Linked DNA regions of Homo sapiens: region 1 is linked to region 2. A link means that fine-mapping ties the variant in region 2 to the expression of a gene that starts in the linked region. Tissue or cell type: atrial appendage. Region 2 holds a variant in brackets; the other region holds the start of a gene. All regions are shown on one strand. Distances are from middle to middle.

Region 1 (8,000 bases), 130 kb after region 2:
GGAGGAAGACAGGCTTAGAACAGAACCCCTGTGACCTAGACCTTCGGGGCCCAGGACAAAGTACATCTCTAGGCAAGAGGTGGAGGCTTTAGCAATAGGAACCCAGGGGACCTCACCTAGTACAGATGGGGAAGCAAAGGCCATGGCAGGGGTGGAAGGCAAGACCCGGCTATCTCGGTCCCCCATAGCTTGATGGAGCCAGCGGGGTGGGCGGGTAGGGCAGGGGTACTGAGGCAGTGCCACGGCTCCTACCTGGTGCTCTCACCCCGGCTGTGCTCCCAGGAGCAGCCCTCATCTTCACAGTGCCCAGCCCGGTCAAAGAAGTAGGACCGAGAGGCAAAGACCTGCCCATTGAGGATGTGGCTGGTGCTCTGGGGGAGGAAGCCATCATCGATACTTACTCCTGTCCTGCACTGGCCTCCCAGGCCCAACCCCAGACTCCAACCCAGGATTTGCAACATCCGCCCCCTCCACTGGCCCCACAGAAGAGGGAGCAGACCCTTACCAGGTCCTGTGGGGGCCGGTGCACCCGGAAGAAGCCCACCAGCAGGGTGGTGGGCAGTAGCTCCCACACGAAGAGGATGAGGCCAAATACCAGGTAGCCTTTGTTCCCCAGGTCATTCACCAGGTCCGCCTGTGGGAAGGCAGGGGCTGGTGCCAGTCTGCAGTCACGCCAAAGGGGTAGTGGGACAGGGCCCAGGCCAGCTGGGGCCAAGGTGCCACGGCTACTAAGGAGGTGGCAGACATGCGTATGCCCACCTGGTCAGACACATTGTACCAGTCGTAATCGAAGGTGTCCAGCCGGCTCTGGGGGGCCAAGGCCAGTGCTGTCAGGTTGTAGCAGGCCCGGCTGGCATAGAGCAGGACCATGGCGCCACCCATCGCGGCCGCCTGGCACACACTGGTCCCCTGGCACAGGTAACAACAGAGGACCCTCAGGGAGAGAAGGCTCCCAGCTTCCTCTACACCCTGAGAACCGCTGCCGAGAGACCCAAAAGACACCTGGGCATCAGTGCTGCAGCCCTACCTTGGCCTCCAGGTAGATGCTAGTGGAGGGCGCCCGCCTGGCGACGAGGCAGAGGCAGGCAGCAAGAGACAGCGCGCAGATGACGAACAGGGAGTCGCTCACCAGGACGCGGACAAGCAGCAGGGCCCAGGGCTGTGCCCGGCGCCGATGGGAGAGCACAGCACACAGCACGTTCACCAGCAGAAAGAGCAGCGAGGCCCCCACAAAGGCCCCTCGGACAGCGAGCCTGCAGCCACAGCACAGTCAGCGCGGGCCCTCAACAGCCCTCAGCACTCACCACCTGCCCCACCTCCTGCAGGAAACCCCAATGTCGACAAAACTCAGGGCATCCAGTCTGAGCCCTGTTCCTCCACTCTTACAGATGGAGAAACTGAGGCCCAAAAAGGTCAGAAGGTGACTGACAGCCATGGTACTTCGGAAGGTGCACCAACTGGAGTCAGAAGTCTCTGTCTGAGCCCCAGCTCTGCGACCTTGATCCTGCTGTCTTACCTGGCTGGGCCTCAGTTTCTTCATCTCTCAAGGGAGGATAGTAGCCTCTCAGGGAAATTGTACAAATAAAAGATGGCTGGGAAAGCTCTTTATAAACCGTAAGACACTGTACAAATGACGAGGGCATTGCGGCCCCAGGTCACCCAGGAGTGCATATGGCTTTGGTGCTTCCATGGGCTGGAGCCTCCAGCTCGCCCTCCATGGTGGATGACACTGGGGCCCTCTCCCTCACACTACCACAAGCATTCCTATTCCTGTGCCTTGCAGATCTGCAAGGCCTCTGCTGAGCCATCTGCGCCAGGTGCTTTAACTTTTCCAAGATCTTCCACAGACATTCCCTGGGTTGCCTTTGTCTCAGCCCTGAGAGGTGGGAAGGGATCTACATGGGACTGTCACCTGCCCCTGACCTGGAGGCTGAGCCCACCAGTGTCCCGAGTACTTACAAGCCTCGGCTCATCTCCGGCCGACGCTTCACCTTGGCCTTGAACACCACCTAGGAGCAGAGATGCCCTTCACTCCTGTGGGTCCTTGAGGCTTGCCACCTCCCGCCCCCCACCCGGGACCACAGTTGGTTACCTGGGCAAAGTAGAGGTTCATAAGCGTCAAGGTGAAGAACTGCAGGCAGACGGGGCAGCAGTAGAGAAGCCAGAAGGGCAAGGGCCCCAGGCGGTTGGCGCGGGGAGTATCTCGGAAGTAGAAGGAGAAGAGGGTGGTACGCAAGGCGGCCCAGAGCAGACAGAGGGCCAGGAACACCGTCTGATAGCTGAGACGCTTGTGCCCATACAGAAGCACCAGCCAGAGCTGGGCATAGACGGAGAAGAAGAGCAGGGCATACAGGGTGGTGTAGGCAGCTGTCAGCCCCAGGGTCACAGCAGGTGGCAGCGCAGGCACCAGCCCGGCAGCAGGCACCAGGCCAGACAGGTTACTCTCCATGTCAGGGAGGGAGGCCTGAATCCCGGAGACAGACAAGGAGGGACTGTCGGCGGGACCAGGGAAATAAATACGGAGGGGTGGGAATTGCAGGGTGCAGAGAGGGAGATGGGGCGCTCAGGAGGAAAGAAGTTGTGGCTGACAGGCCCCTCCTCCTCAACAGAGAGACCCTTGCCCTTGGGGAACACAGGCAGCCTGGGCCCCAGGCCCCTCACTCAGGGGCATGGAAGGGCAGTCTCTTTTCTCCAGGACAGACCGGATAGGGGTTGGGGGTGTCTCCTCCCTGGGCCTACCCCAGAGCCAAGGATGGGGGGATGCAGAGGCCCAAGGAGAGGACTCCCTGGCCTCGGTCGTTCATGTCGTCCTGGGTGGAGGGGGAGAGCCGGCTGATACCCGTCGGGTCAGGGCAGCGGCCGCTGCGAGGGGCGCCCAATGCCCCGCTCTCCCCCTCCCCAAGCTGGGGGAGGCTCTCTCTCCTCCAATAATGCGGATGGGGAGGGCCTCTGCCTCCTGTCCTCGTAATTCTCGAAAGCTGCCCCCGCCCCACCCTCCCCCACCGCGTCCACGCTCCAGCCTCAAGGGGAGGGAGGAGGCGGACGCCAGGTCCTCAGGCCGCTGATGGGAGAGCCGGCTCAGGTCGTGGGGACCCGGGGCTCCGGCTCCCCGGCTCCCGCTGCTCCGCCCCCCTCCCCCTCCGCGCCTGCGCGGGCGCCGTTCGCTACGCAAATTGCGCAGCGGCCCGGCTGGCTCCGCAGTCCAGCGCCGCACCCGGCGTGAAACCGTACGAGAATTGGCGCGAGCTGCGCCGCTGGCGGGCGCCCGGGGTTACGGGAGGCGGCAGGAGGGCGGCCGAGTTGCGGGGGCCGTGCCGCATCCAGGGGGTCCCCGGGTGGGCCGTGCCCCGTGCCGCCCGCCTTTACTTGTATGGGGGTCCGCCAGTTCCCACGCTCCTCTCTCCTATACCCAAATCGGGGTCGTGCCGCCCGGCCGGGGGCGGCAACGGATTCCCGTCCCTCGGTCTCTGAAGAAAACTTCCGCCCATAGCCAAGATGGCCCCCGGGCCCCGCCCCCGGGCCTGAACCCGCGGAGCCCCGAATCCCCCGCGCGGGCCCGCCCCTCGCCCCGGCGCGCCCGCGGCCCTGCTCACCTGGCCGGCCGCCTGCCAGGCGTGAAGCCCCCACGGGCCCTACGGTCCTCCCTCACCGGGTCCCCGGCCCTCCTCCCGCGCCCGGGCAGCCATCCCAGCCAGGGAGGAGGTTCCTTTCCTTATCTCCAGTGCCCCCGAGATGGCGCGGGAGGTGTCCCCCGAGGCGGGCGGCGCGAAGCTTCCGCGCCTGGGAGGAGGAGCGGGGAGCGGGACTTTCCGACCGGGCACCCAGTCCAGGCGGAGCGGTAACAATAGCAACAATAATCACATCCGACGGCTGAGCTTCAGTTGTGGCTGTGCCAAGCGCCTTCGCCCGCAGTAATCACTCCCTTCACAAAGTTTTCACTGGCTCCCGGGGGAGCTGTCACTATCCCCACTTCACTGGGGGGAAACTAAGGCCCAGAGGGGCTGAAGGACTTGTTGGCAGAAGTGGGTCTCCAGGTTCCAAATGGGGACCCCAGAGAATCCCTCTCCTGCTCCCACACACGCCCAAGGTGTGAGGCAGCGAGGATGTGAGCCCCGGGGCCGAAGGAGGGAGGAAAAAGGATGCGGACGAGGAGCCTTGGATCCGGCGGGGGGGCGGGGCCGGGCCGGGTTGACCCCGCCTCTGGACCTACCCGAGTGACGTTCCGAGAGGTGATTGGGCCAGGTCGCTGACAGTTCCCGTTGCCCAAGCAACTAGGGCCCGGAGCCCGGGGTGCTGGAGGGAGGCGGCAGGCCCGGGTCAGGGGCCTCGAGATCGGGCTTGGGGTGAGACCTGTGCGCCGTCACCACGGGCGGGGCGGGGCCTGGGTCCACCGGGGTTCTGAGGGGAGACTGAGGTCCTGAGCCGACAGCCTCAGCTCCCTGCCAGGCCAGACCCGGCAGACAGATGAGGGCCCAGGAGGCCTGGCGGGCCTGGGGGCGCTACGGTGGGAGAGGAAGCCAGGGGTACCTGCCTCTGCCTTCCAGGGCCACCGTTGGCCCCAGCTGTGCCTTGACTACGTAACATCTTGTCCTCACAGCCCAGAGCATGTTCCAGATCCCAGAGTTTGAGCCGAGTGAGCAGGAAGACTCCAGCTCTGCAGAGAGGGGCCTGGGCCCCAGCCCCGCAGGGGACGGGCCCTCAGGCTCCGGCAAGCATCATCGCCAGGCCCCAGGCCTCCTGTGGGACGCCAGTCACCAGCAGGAGCAGCCAACCAGCAGCAGCCATCATGGAGGTAAGTACCCCACCACCTCCACCTGCCGGGACACCTCACCCCCAGCCCACTGGCTCCCTGCATCCCAGTTGCATCCACAGGCACTGAATGCTTTGGGTCGGTCCCCAAACTCTCAGAGCCCCAGTTTCCTCTTTCGTAAAACAGCAATTAATAACCACCATTGTAGGACTGTTGAGTTAATTAGCAGGAACATATAGGATGCACTTGATTACAGAGCTGGTGCACATTAAAGCTAAAAAATGGTTGCTGCCGGGCGTGGTGGCTCACACCTGTAATCTCAGCACTTTGGGAGGCCAAGGCAGGAGGATCGCTTGAGCCCAGAAGTTCAAGGCCAGCCTGAGTGACTTAGGGAGACTCCAGCTCTTAAAATACATATATATATATATAGCAGCTATTAGTGTGGGGTTAGGACAGAAATCAGTGACAGGCAGGCAGTGATCCGAAAAGGAAAAGGGGCCTGCCTAAGGCCACACCTTCCTGGTGTTTCTTTCCTTAGAATGTGGGGGCTGGAAGCCTCCTTGGTGCCCTGCCCCAGGCTACATGCTTTCCCTGGGATTAGGCCTTCCAGCTCCCAGATGTGTTCTTTCTTGCCCTGTGGCTCGTACCCACAGCAGGACTGTCCTGGCACAGTGGCCAGGGGCAGATGACCTCAAGGGGCAGACAGTCCTCCCAGACAGCAGGGCTGTGTGGGGTGAGAAGCACAGGCTCCAAGATGGAAGGATGGACACTGGGGTTCTATGTCCATTTCTCAGTAGGCTCTAGCACCCCTGTGCCCAGCACTGGCCTTGGCACCTGGAACAACAACAGATATCTTCTGAACACAAAAACCAGGTCAAGCTGGGTGGGGTGGCACATGTCTGTAGTCCCAGCAACTCAGGAGGCTGGCTTGAGCCCAGGAATTCAAGACCAGCCTGGGCAACATAGCCAGACCCCATCTCTAAAAATAGAAAACTAGGTCATGTCACTCTGGCACTGCAGCTTAAAAGACCTCCTCCCCATTTTCAGGATTAAGAAGGCTTAAGAGGCCTCTTTCCCCTCGCTCTCTTACGGATAAACACCCACACTCGATTCTCTCAGATTGGACCCCATAGCTTGCTTTCTTTTTTTCTGTTTGTTTTGTTTTGTTTTGAGACAGGGTCTCGCTCTATCACCCAGGAGGGAGTACAGAGGTGCGATCTCAGCTCACTGCAGCCCGGAACTTCTGGGCTTAAGTGATCCTCCCACGTAACTGGGAATACAGGTGTGTGGACCACACCCAGTTAATTTATTTTTTACTTTTTCTTTTTTTTTTTTTTTTTTTCCTGAGACGGAGTCTCACTCTGCTGCCCAGGCTGGGGTGCAGTGGTGCAATCTCGGCTCACTGCAACCTCTGCCTCCTGGGTTCAAGCAGTTCTCCTGCCTCAGCCTCCAGAGTAGCTGGGACTACAGGCGCGTGTCACCATGCCGGGCTAATTTCTTGTATTTTTATTAGAGATGGGGTTTCACCGTGTTAGCCAGGGTGGTCTCCATTTCCTGACCTCGTAATCCACCCGCCTCAGCCTCCCAACAGTGTTGGGATTACAGGCGTGAGCCACCATGCCCAGCATTTTTCACATTTTCATGAGATGAGGGCAGGGGCGGGGTCTCCTTTTGTTGCCCAGGCAGGCCTCAAACTCCTGGGCTCAAACGATCCTCCTGCCTCAGCCTCCAGAACAGCTGGGACCACAGGTGCATGCCACCACACCAGCTCATTTTTTATTTTTTGTAGAGGTGGGGTCTTGCTTTGTTGCCCAGTCTTGTCTCGAATTCCTGGGCCCAAGCAATCCTCTCACCTTGGCCTCCCAGACTGTTGAGATTACTGGCGTGAGCCACCATGCTCAGCCTCCACAGCTTTCTTTAACTTCCTGAGCTTGCACTTGGCCATTTTTCTGCTCACAAACTTCCCCTGCTCTCTGCCCCCCACACACACTCAGCATTCACTCGCGCCACACAGTGAGTGCTCACCGTGTGACACAGGCTGTTCCAGTTGCTAGGGGGCCTCGGTGAACCCAAGCGTCAGGAATCCTTGCCCTTGTGGAGCTTACCTTCTAGTGAGCTGGTGGGGCCATGAGCAAACAAGCACAAAAGCATCCTATCATGCGTGAGAAGATTTGTATGGGGGCAGCATGTAAAAGAGTTAAGAGAGGCCGGGCGCGGTGGCTCACGCCTGTAATTCCAACACTTTGGGAGGCCTAGGTGGGCGTATCACAAGGTGAAGAGATGGAGACCATCCTGGCCAACATGGTGAAACCCCATCTCTACCAAAAATACAAAAATTAGCTGGGCATGGTGGCGCGCACCTATAGTCCCAGCTACTCGGGAGGCTGAGGCAGGAGAATCGCTTGAACCCGGGAGGCGGAGGTTGCAGTGAGCCAAGATCGTGCCACTGCACTCCAGCCTGGCGACAGAGTGAGACTCATCTCAAAAAAAAGAGTTAAGAGAATCCGGAGTCACAGGGGCGGGGGGAGTGATGGTAGCAGAGGTGGTCAGCACTCACCTTGGTGAGAAGCACCACTGGAGCCAAGGCCACAGGGATGATGGGAAGAGAGTTCCAGGCAGAGAGAAGGGCAGATGGTAAGGCCTCGAGGGCAACACCTGCTCCTGGCTAGGGTGGGCCTAGGGGAGGGGGTTTAGGAAAGGGTATTTGGAGACCTAAAGTTGAAGGTCATTCTAAGGACTCTGGCATTGCCTTTGAGTAAAAACCTGGAAAGGATTTGAGCAGAGGCAGCATGGTCAGATTTAGACATTCAGAGAGTCACCAGGGAGGTGGTGAGAAGTAGCTGATCCCTGGATTTATTTTTAAAGCAGAACTGGCAGGATCTGCTGATGGACTGGATGTGGGGTGCGAGGGAAAGAGAGGAGTCAGGATGATGCCAAGGAATTTTAAAAAAACTATTAGGCTGGGCGCGGTGGCTCACGCCTATAATCCCAGCACTTTGGTAGTTCGAGGTGGGCAGATCATGAGGTCAGGAGATAGAGACCATTCTGGCTAACACGGTGAACCCCGTCTCCACTAAAAATACAAAAAATTCTCTGGGCGTGGTGGTGGGCGCCTGTAGTCCCAGCTACTCTGGAGGCTGAGGCAGGAGAATGGCGTGAGCCCGGGAGGCGGAGCTTGCAGTGAGCAGAGATTGCACCACTGCACTCCAGCCTGGGTGACAGAGCAAGATTCCGTCTCAAAAAAAAAATT
Region 2 (8,000 bases):
AACACAAACACCTGTGACCACGAACCCACGTGGCAGTGTGCACTCACACATGTGTGACCAGGAACCCACATGGCAGTGTGCACTCACACCTGTGATCATGAACCCACATGGCAGTGTGCACTCACACCTGTGGCCACAAACCCACATGGCAGTGTGCACTCACACCTGTGGCCACGAACCCTCATGGCAGTGTGCACTCACACCTGTGTGACCACAAACCCACATGGCAGTGTGCACTCACACCTGTGTGACCACAAACCCACATGGCAGTGTGCACTCACACCTGTGATCATGAAACCACATGGCAGTGTGCACTCACACCTGTGATCATGAAACCACATGGCAGTGTGCACTCACAACTGTGACCATGAACCCACATGGCAGTGTGCACTCACACCTCTGACCACCAACCCACATGGCAGTGTGCACTGACACGTGTGATCACGAACCCACGGGGCAATGTGCACTCATATGTAGTCATCCGGGTGGACCAGCATCAAGCATTTAAGTTATCAGTGACATGAAACTCCCAAAACTATTCTTGTAAGGGAATTGAAGGTGTTGAAAATATGCCTGAGGCCCTCGGGGAGCCCAGGTTAGAAACCCTGAGTTAGGCAGATGTAGCACACAGGCCTTCTAGAATGAATTAGGCGCACAGTGGCTTTTCCACGGCGTTAAAGGGTTCCGTTTACAAATGTAAACAATTGTCCTTACGGTTACATAGCTGTGCCCTGCAGATTATGTGTGCGTAAGACACAGCTGTCTTTTCAACATCTCGATTCCTGAGCTAACTTCAAATGGGCCACTGTAACGCTTCCCGGCAAGCATGCTGCACCCCTGGGCCCACGCTCCCCTCCCACCTCCTCCCCTCTCCTCAGACCCCTATCTTCCTCCCCCACTCCCCTCAGAGCTGGTGCATCCTTTTAAGCTAAGAACTTCCTCCACCCCCACAGCACATCTGCCCCTCCCCCAGGCTCCAGGGCATCGGTCAGGCATCCCGTCAGCTCTGCGTCCTCCCTGCTTACATCTTAAACTCTCTTCATCTCACTCCTTTTTCAAATGCCATCTTATTTCCCTCCTTCCCTTGACAGCAAAGGCCCCGAAGCCTCTGAAGAGCAGTCTCTCCCCTTTCCACTCACACACTTCCTGTCCTCTCGCAAAGCCCACTCAAGGCAGGCTTGCAGCCCAAACTGCCCTTGTCAAGGTCACCTTGCTCTGCCAAGTCAGCTGTCAGCTCTGTGGTACTCAATCACCAGAGCATAGGACCCAGGTGCTCACCCTCCCTTCTTTGAAACACTCCCTCCAGGGCCTCCAGGGGCCTCGTGCACCTGGTCTTCTCCCCACTCTTGCCCCATCTTCCTCCTCATGGGCCGGCCTGTACTGTGGGTGTGCCCGACTCACGCTTGCACCTCGTGGATCACATCCAAGTTCATACCTCTAGCCCAGGCCTCCCCCGAACCCCCTGAGTCACAGCCAACTACAGTTGTGTTACAGGAAGGGGGTCCTGATGCAAACCCCAAGAGAGGGTTCTTGGATCTCATGCAAGAAAGAATTCAGGGTGAGTCCGTAAAGTGAAAGCAAGTTTATTAAGAAAGTAGAGGAATAGGCCAGGCGTGGTGGCTCACGCCTGTCATCCCAGCACTCTGGGAGGCCGAGGCAGGCGAATCACGACGTCAGGAGTTCAAGACCAGCCTGGCCAACATGGTGAAACCCCGTCTCTACTAAAAATACAAAAAATTGGCCAGGCGCAGTGGTTCACGCCTGTAATCCCAGCACTTTGGGAGGCCGAGGTGGGTGGATCACCTGAGGTCAGGGGTTCGAGACCAGCCTGGCCAACATGGTGAAACCCCATCTCTACTAAAAATACAAAAATTAGGTCGGGGGCAGTGGCTCATGCCTGTAATCCCAGCACTTTGGGAGACCGAGGCGGGCAGTTCACCTGAGGTCAGGAGTGTGAAACCAGCCTGGCCAACATGTTGAAATCCGTTTCTACTAAAAATACAAAAAATTAGCTGGGCATGGTGGCATGCACCTGTAGTCCCAGCTACTCGGGACGCTGAGGCAGGAGAATCGCTTGAACCTGGGAGGTGGAAGTTGCCATGAACCGAGATCGCGCCACTGCACTCCAGCTTGGCCAACAGAGTGAGACTCCGTCTCAAAAAAACAAGAAAAAAAAGAAAAATTAGCCAGGTATGGTGGCGGGCACCTGTAATCCCAGCTACTTGGGGGGCTGAGGCAGGAGAATCACTTAAACCTGGGAGGTGGATGTTGCAGTGAGCCAAGATCACGCCACTGCACTCCAGCCTGGGCGACACAGCGAGACTCCGTCTCAAAAAAAAAAAAAAATGTCGTGGAATAAAATAATGGCTACTCTATAGACAGAGCAGCCCCAAGGGCTGCTGGTTGCCTATTTTTATGGTTATTTCTTGATGATCTACTAAACAAGGGATGGATTATTCATGCCTCCCCTTTTTAGACCATATAGGGTAACTTCCTGACATTGCCATGGCATCTGTAAACTGTCGTGGCGCTGATAGGATTGGAGCAGTGAGGACAACCAGAGGTCACTGTTGTGGTCATCTTGGTTTTGGTGGGTTTTAGCCAGCTTCTTTAGTGCAACCTGTTTTATCAGCAAGGTCTTCAGGACCTGTATCTTGTGCTGACCCCTATCTCATCCTGTGACTTAGAGTGCCTTAACTGTCTGGGAATGCAGCTCAGGAGGTTTCAGCCTCATTTTACACAGCTCCTATTCAACATGGAGTCGCTCTGGTTCACAGGCCTCCAACAGTTGGACCTCTCCATTTGGGGACATCAAACTCAGCCTGTCAAACCGACCTCCTCTCCCTCCACGTTCCCCATCTTGCTTCTTTGCAGCTCCATCCTTCCTCTGGTTGCTCAGGTTAAGCCCCTTGGCTCCACAAATGGCCAAGAAGCACATGAAAAGATGCTCACCATCATTAGTCATTAGGGACTGCAAATCTAACCTGCAATGAGATACCACCGCCCACCCTCCAGGATGGCTATAATTTAAAAAAACACACACAGACAATAGCAAGTGTTGGCGGGGATATGGAAAAAGAGGAACCCTTGTACCTTGCTGATGGGAATGTCAAATGGTACTGCTGCTGTGGAGAACAGCTTGGCCGTTCCTCGCAAAGTTAAGCATGGAATTACTATACCATCCTACAGTTTTACTCCTGTGTATACATACCCCAAAGAATTGAAAACAGGTGTTCAGGCCAGGCACAGTGGCTCAAGCCTGTAACCCCAGCACTTTGGGAGGCTGAGGTAGGGCAATCACTTGAGCCTAGGGGTTCGAGACCAGCCTGGGCAACATGGCAAAACTCTGTCTGTACAAAAAATTAAAAAACTAGCCAGGTGTGTTGGCACATGTCCATGGTTTCAGCTCTCAAGAGGCTGAGGTAAAAGAATCACCTGGGGGCTGGGCTCGATGGCTCACGCCTGTAATCCCAGCACTTTGGGAGGCTGAAGTGGCCGGTCACCTGAGGTCAGGAGTTCAAGACCAGCCTGACCAACCTAGAGAAACCCCCGTCTCTACTAAAAATACAAAATTAGCCGGGAGTGGTGGCACATGCCTGTAATCCCAGCTACTCGGGAGGCTGAAGCAGAAGAATCGCTTGAACCTGGGAGGCGGAGGTTGTGATGAGCCAAGATCGTGCCATTGCACTCCAGCCTGGGCAACAGGAGCGAAACTCAAAAAAAAAAAAAAAAAAGAATCACTTGGGTCGGGAGGTGGAGGCTG[C/T]AGTGAGCTGAGATCATGCTACTGCACCCCAGCCTGTGCAACAGAAAGAGACCCTGTCTCAAAATAAATAAATAAGTAAATAAAAGGGAAAAAAACAGGTGTTCAAAGAGAAACTTGTACATGAATGTTCACAGCAGCACTATTCACAGTAGCTAAAACATGGAAACAACACCCATCTCCATGGATAGATGAATGACTAAACAAATGTGGTCTAGCCATACAGTGGAATATTATTCAGCCTTAAAAAGGAAGGAAATTGACACATGCTACCACATAGCTGAAATTTGAAGACATTATGCTAAGTGATTTACCAGAATAGGTAAATCCATAGAGACAGAAAGCAGATTCATGCTTGTCAGGGGCTCCGGGAGGGGGAAGAAGGAGTGACTGTTTAATGCATACAAAGTTTTCCTTTCAGGCTGATGGAAATGTTTGGGGATGAGACAGAGGCGATGATGGAACAACACTGTGAAGGTACTAAATACCTCTGAATACACTCTAAAATGGTTAAATTAACATTATGTGAATTTTACCCGAATAAATAAACCAACTAATCAGCCTTGGCTCTTCCTTGGCTTCTCTCCCACTCCCATACATCCCACCTGTCAGTCAATCCCATCAGCTTTGCACTCAAAATATATACAAATATACCCAGAATCTAGGTTGGGTGCGGTGGCTCACACCTGTAATCCCAACATTTTAGGAGGCTGAGGCGGGCGGATCACCTGAGGTCAGGAGTTGGAGACCAGCCTGGCCAAGGTGGTGAAACCCTGTCTCTACTAAAAATACAAAAATTAGCAGAGCATGGTGGCAAGCGCCTATAATCCCAGATACTTGGGAGCCTGAGGCAAGAGAACTGCTTGAACTCGGGAGGCGAAGGTTGCAGTGAGCCGAGATCTTGCACTCCAGCCTGGGTGACAGAGCAAGACTCCGTCTCAAAAATAAATAAATAAAAATTTAAAAATTAAAAAAAAAAGACACACACACACACACACACACAATTTGTCACTTACCACCACCTCGCTGCCTCCATGCCAGTCTTAGCCACTGTCACCTCCCAACAGAGGACAGCAGGAGCCTGCTGACCAGCCTCCCAGTCCAGTTCCGACCCTCAGAGGCCTGCGTTCCTCGAGGCAGCCAGGGGGATCCTGTTAAATCGAAAGTCAGGTCCCATCTCCCGCCCTGCCCCTGCTTTAAACCTCCCCAAGCAGCATCGCATCGTGGTCAAAGCCAAAGTCCTTCCTACAACCCACCAGGCCACTGTGTTCCCCCACCTTGTCCCCACTGTGATCCTGGGTTCTCTCTCTCTCTCTGGCCACCCACTGGCCTCCTGCTGCCCCCACATACCTGCTACCCCCAGCTCTTTGTTGGATCTCCTGTCCTGACATCTGTGGGCTTACTGCTCACTTCCTCATGCCTTTAGGCCTCCTTGGCTGGTCCTTCCTGAAGTTTCAGCTCCATCCCAACACTCCCACCCCTTCCTTGATGTAGTCTTGCCTAGCATATGGCATATTTTATTCCTTAGGCTTGTATCTATGGACTGACTCCTACCCCAAAATATAAGCTCCATGAGGGTGGGACTTTTCCCTTTTTTGTTCCTTGCTATGTCCTCATTGTGTGGGACAGTGCCCAGCATAGAGAACATGCCTAAGAAATATCTGACAAATGAATGGATTCCAATTCACCTAAGCCCATGTATTTGTATTTGCTTTGCAGAGGTGGGTGTGCATGTGTGCGTGTGTGTACACATGCATGTGTCAGACAGGCATCCATCCTATCCAGGAGATAGGAAACCAAGAATGCAAAGACAACTCAGCAGATCTGCTGGCATGGAGGCGAGGCTGCATGGAAGGATCTGGATTGGATAGGAGTGTCCCATTCAGGACATGTGTCACTCAAAACCACACAACTCAGACTTGGGGAATATTCTATGCCAGTCACATCTGTTTACAACACGTGTGGCATCTCCTGTGGACGGAGTTGACAGTCTCATCCTGAGATAGGCAGAGCCTGGCGTGGAAGTGAGAGCCTTCATCTGGGATGAGACAGCAGGAGGCAGGGAGGGGACACACTGGGGGACATCACGTGGGGCCAGGCAGTGTCCACCCAGCTCTGGCACAGCCTGAGAGTCATCACTTCCTCAGTTTTCACACCCTGGGCACCTCCACCTCGCCTGCCTCCCCCGACCCCGGCCCCATGGCCAGACCTTTCTTCCACATAATTCCCAGGAGTGCTATATGCATGAACCAAGCTAAGGTGTCAATCTCGTTTCAGAACCACAGCACGGCTCCCCATAAAAGTCATCTTTATGGACAGATATTTCATGGCGGCAGCTTGAGAAGGCTCACGTTTCTTAGGCAGCTGGTGCAGAGCCAGGAGAGCTAATCATGAGATCTTCCAGTCCCAGGACGTGGGCTGCAGCTGGCGGCTGTGGTCGTCTTATATCAAACTCTCAAGAGTCACAGGGCAGCAGCATTGGCCCCCTCCCAAGTCATTCCAGATGGGATTTAAGGTGGCTTAATGAGCATTCATAAAATACAGCAAGAGAACATAAACTGAAAAGGGTGTGCAAGAAGAAATCAAATGGGAACTACATGAAATGAGCCAGAGACAGGAGGGAGGGGGAAGAAGAGGGAGGGGGAAGAACAGGCGGGAGGGGGATGAACAGGGAGGGGCCCCCTAAGCCACTGGAAAGTGTGGCAAGACTTCCCGGAGCCGGACAGAGCAGATTCTTGAGGGGTGCGCAGGAGTCTCGTAGGCCAGGATGGAGAGGAAGGGCCTGTAGGCAGAAGACTGGTGTGTGCAAAGGAACCAGAGAGAGAAGGAGGCGGGGAGGGGAGAGGGGGTGCCGGGAGGAGGGAGAGGAAGCTCAGTAGTTGTGGGGGATAGCGAGGGGGATTGGGGAATGAACTGTTTCCCGCAAATGCCTCAGCCATAGTTGAAAGGATTCCCACTCCCTTCCCCACTCACAAAGTCCTGGTGCCCTTGGCCCGGCTGCGCAGGCCCTCATTCCCTGAGCTCCCAAGAGGTGCAGTGATTTATCCGATGCGAAGCGCGAAGCTCGGGAGTCCGACTGCACCCGGAGGTGGTGGGGGCGGGGGGACGGAGGGGCGGAGGGGCAAGAGTACTACAAGAAAAGGCCGGGGCCTGCTCTCTGCTCTCTCCTCTCTCTGGACCTGCCTGAGCCCCAGGGGCACGGTCTGCACCATCTGCCTGTGAACAGGAGCGCTTAATTCAGAGTGGCCGGCAGAGACCCTGGGTCCGATGATCCAGAAGTCTGACATCGAGCTTCTGCTCATTAGCCGCAACCCTCCCCTGGGTCCTGGAATCTGTTCTCAGGTGACCGTGGAGGAGGCGATGCTGAGTGATCAACACCTCGGATCTCCAGCTGTCGGTGCAATGACCAAGAAGGCCTTGGTGAATGTTAAAGAAACAATTATTCCATGACATTGGTAAAGCATGGCCGAGCCAACTTTATCCAGGACCGTGGAGATTGATACAGGGACCCCCACAATAAGATCTTGCGGTAGGGGAGAGAGATTAGGCTCCACTCTGAATATAGCACAGGCAAGTAGGAATTTATGGCCAAGGAGTGTGGGGGTCAGTGGATGGAAAATTACCAAGGGGTAGGGGAGATTCTGCTTAACCCGACCTAACAGGATTCTTGCTGACACAGGCCAGGGTTCTTTCGCTAAAACTGGATTTTTTTTTTTTTTTTTTTGAGACGGAATCTCACTCTGTGGCCCAGGCTGAAGTGCAGGGGCATGATCTCAGCTCACTGCAACCTCCATCTCCCGGGTTCAAGTGATTCTCCTGCCTCAGCCTCCCAAGTAGCTGGGATTACAGGCATGCACCACCACGCCCAGCCAACTTTTGTATTTTTTTGGTGGAGACAGGGTTTCACCATGTTGCAAGCTGGTCTCGAACTTCTGACCTCAAGTGATCCGCCCACCTCAGCCTCTTAGAGTGCTGGGATTACAGGCGTGAGCCACCGCGCCTGGCCTAGAACTGCATTTTACAAGGAAGTGCACAGATGGGCCTAGCAGAAGATTCAGAAGCCTGACTAAAGTTTGGCCGAGCAAAGAATCTTTATCTGTAACTCTCATTCAATGACCAAGACGCCCTTTAGGAGCTCTTGGAAGAGCCCTCATGATGGGGTGAGTGTCCTTATATGGAGAGATCGGGGCCAGGCGAGGTGGCTCACACCTGTAATCCCAACACTTTGGGAGGCCATGGT

Alleles and levels. Alleles are on the strand shown, and positions count from the first base shown. SD is a standard deviation of normalised expression in the study named.
With allele T in place of C in region 2, the expression in atrial appendage of the gene that starts at base 4,309 in region 1 is lower (large effect, 0.82 SD a copy in GTEx).

Evidence for each region. PIP is the estimated chance that this variant, and not a neighbour inherited with it, causes the effect.
Region 1: it holds the start of BAD, and the variant in region 2 is fine-mapped to the expression of BAD in atrial appendage (GTEx, PIP above 0.99).

The regions. Positions count from the first base shown.
Region 1 is chr11:64,280,974-64,288,973 of GRCh38, reverse strand. BAD (BCL2 associated agonist of cell death) reads left to right here and starts at 4,309. Exons shown (of 4, transcript NM_032989.3): 1 at 4,309-4,343; 2 at 4,598-4,792. The coding sequence starts at 4,606. GPR137 (G protein-coupled receptor 137) reads right to left here and starts at 3,126. Exons shown (of 7, transcript NM_001170880.2): 1 at 2,093-3,126; 2 at 1,960-2,009; 3 at 1,028-1,253; 4 at 760-909; 5 at 506-634; 6 at 253-371. The coding sequence starts at 2,449. RefSeq lists silencers at 3,050-3,789, 4,140-4,429.
Region 2 is chr11:64,408,397-64,416,396 of GRCh38, reverse strand. LOC105369341 (a long non-coding RNA gene) reads left to right here. Exons shown (of 4, transcript XR_001748069.2): 3 at 4,182-4,237; 4 at 5,480-6,319. Among named protein-coding and RNA genes, the nearest start is that of LINC02723, 17 kb to the right of the region's middle. RefSeq lists enhancers at 1-200, 201-701. The variant C/T (reference allele first, on the strand shown) is at 3,764.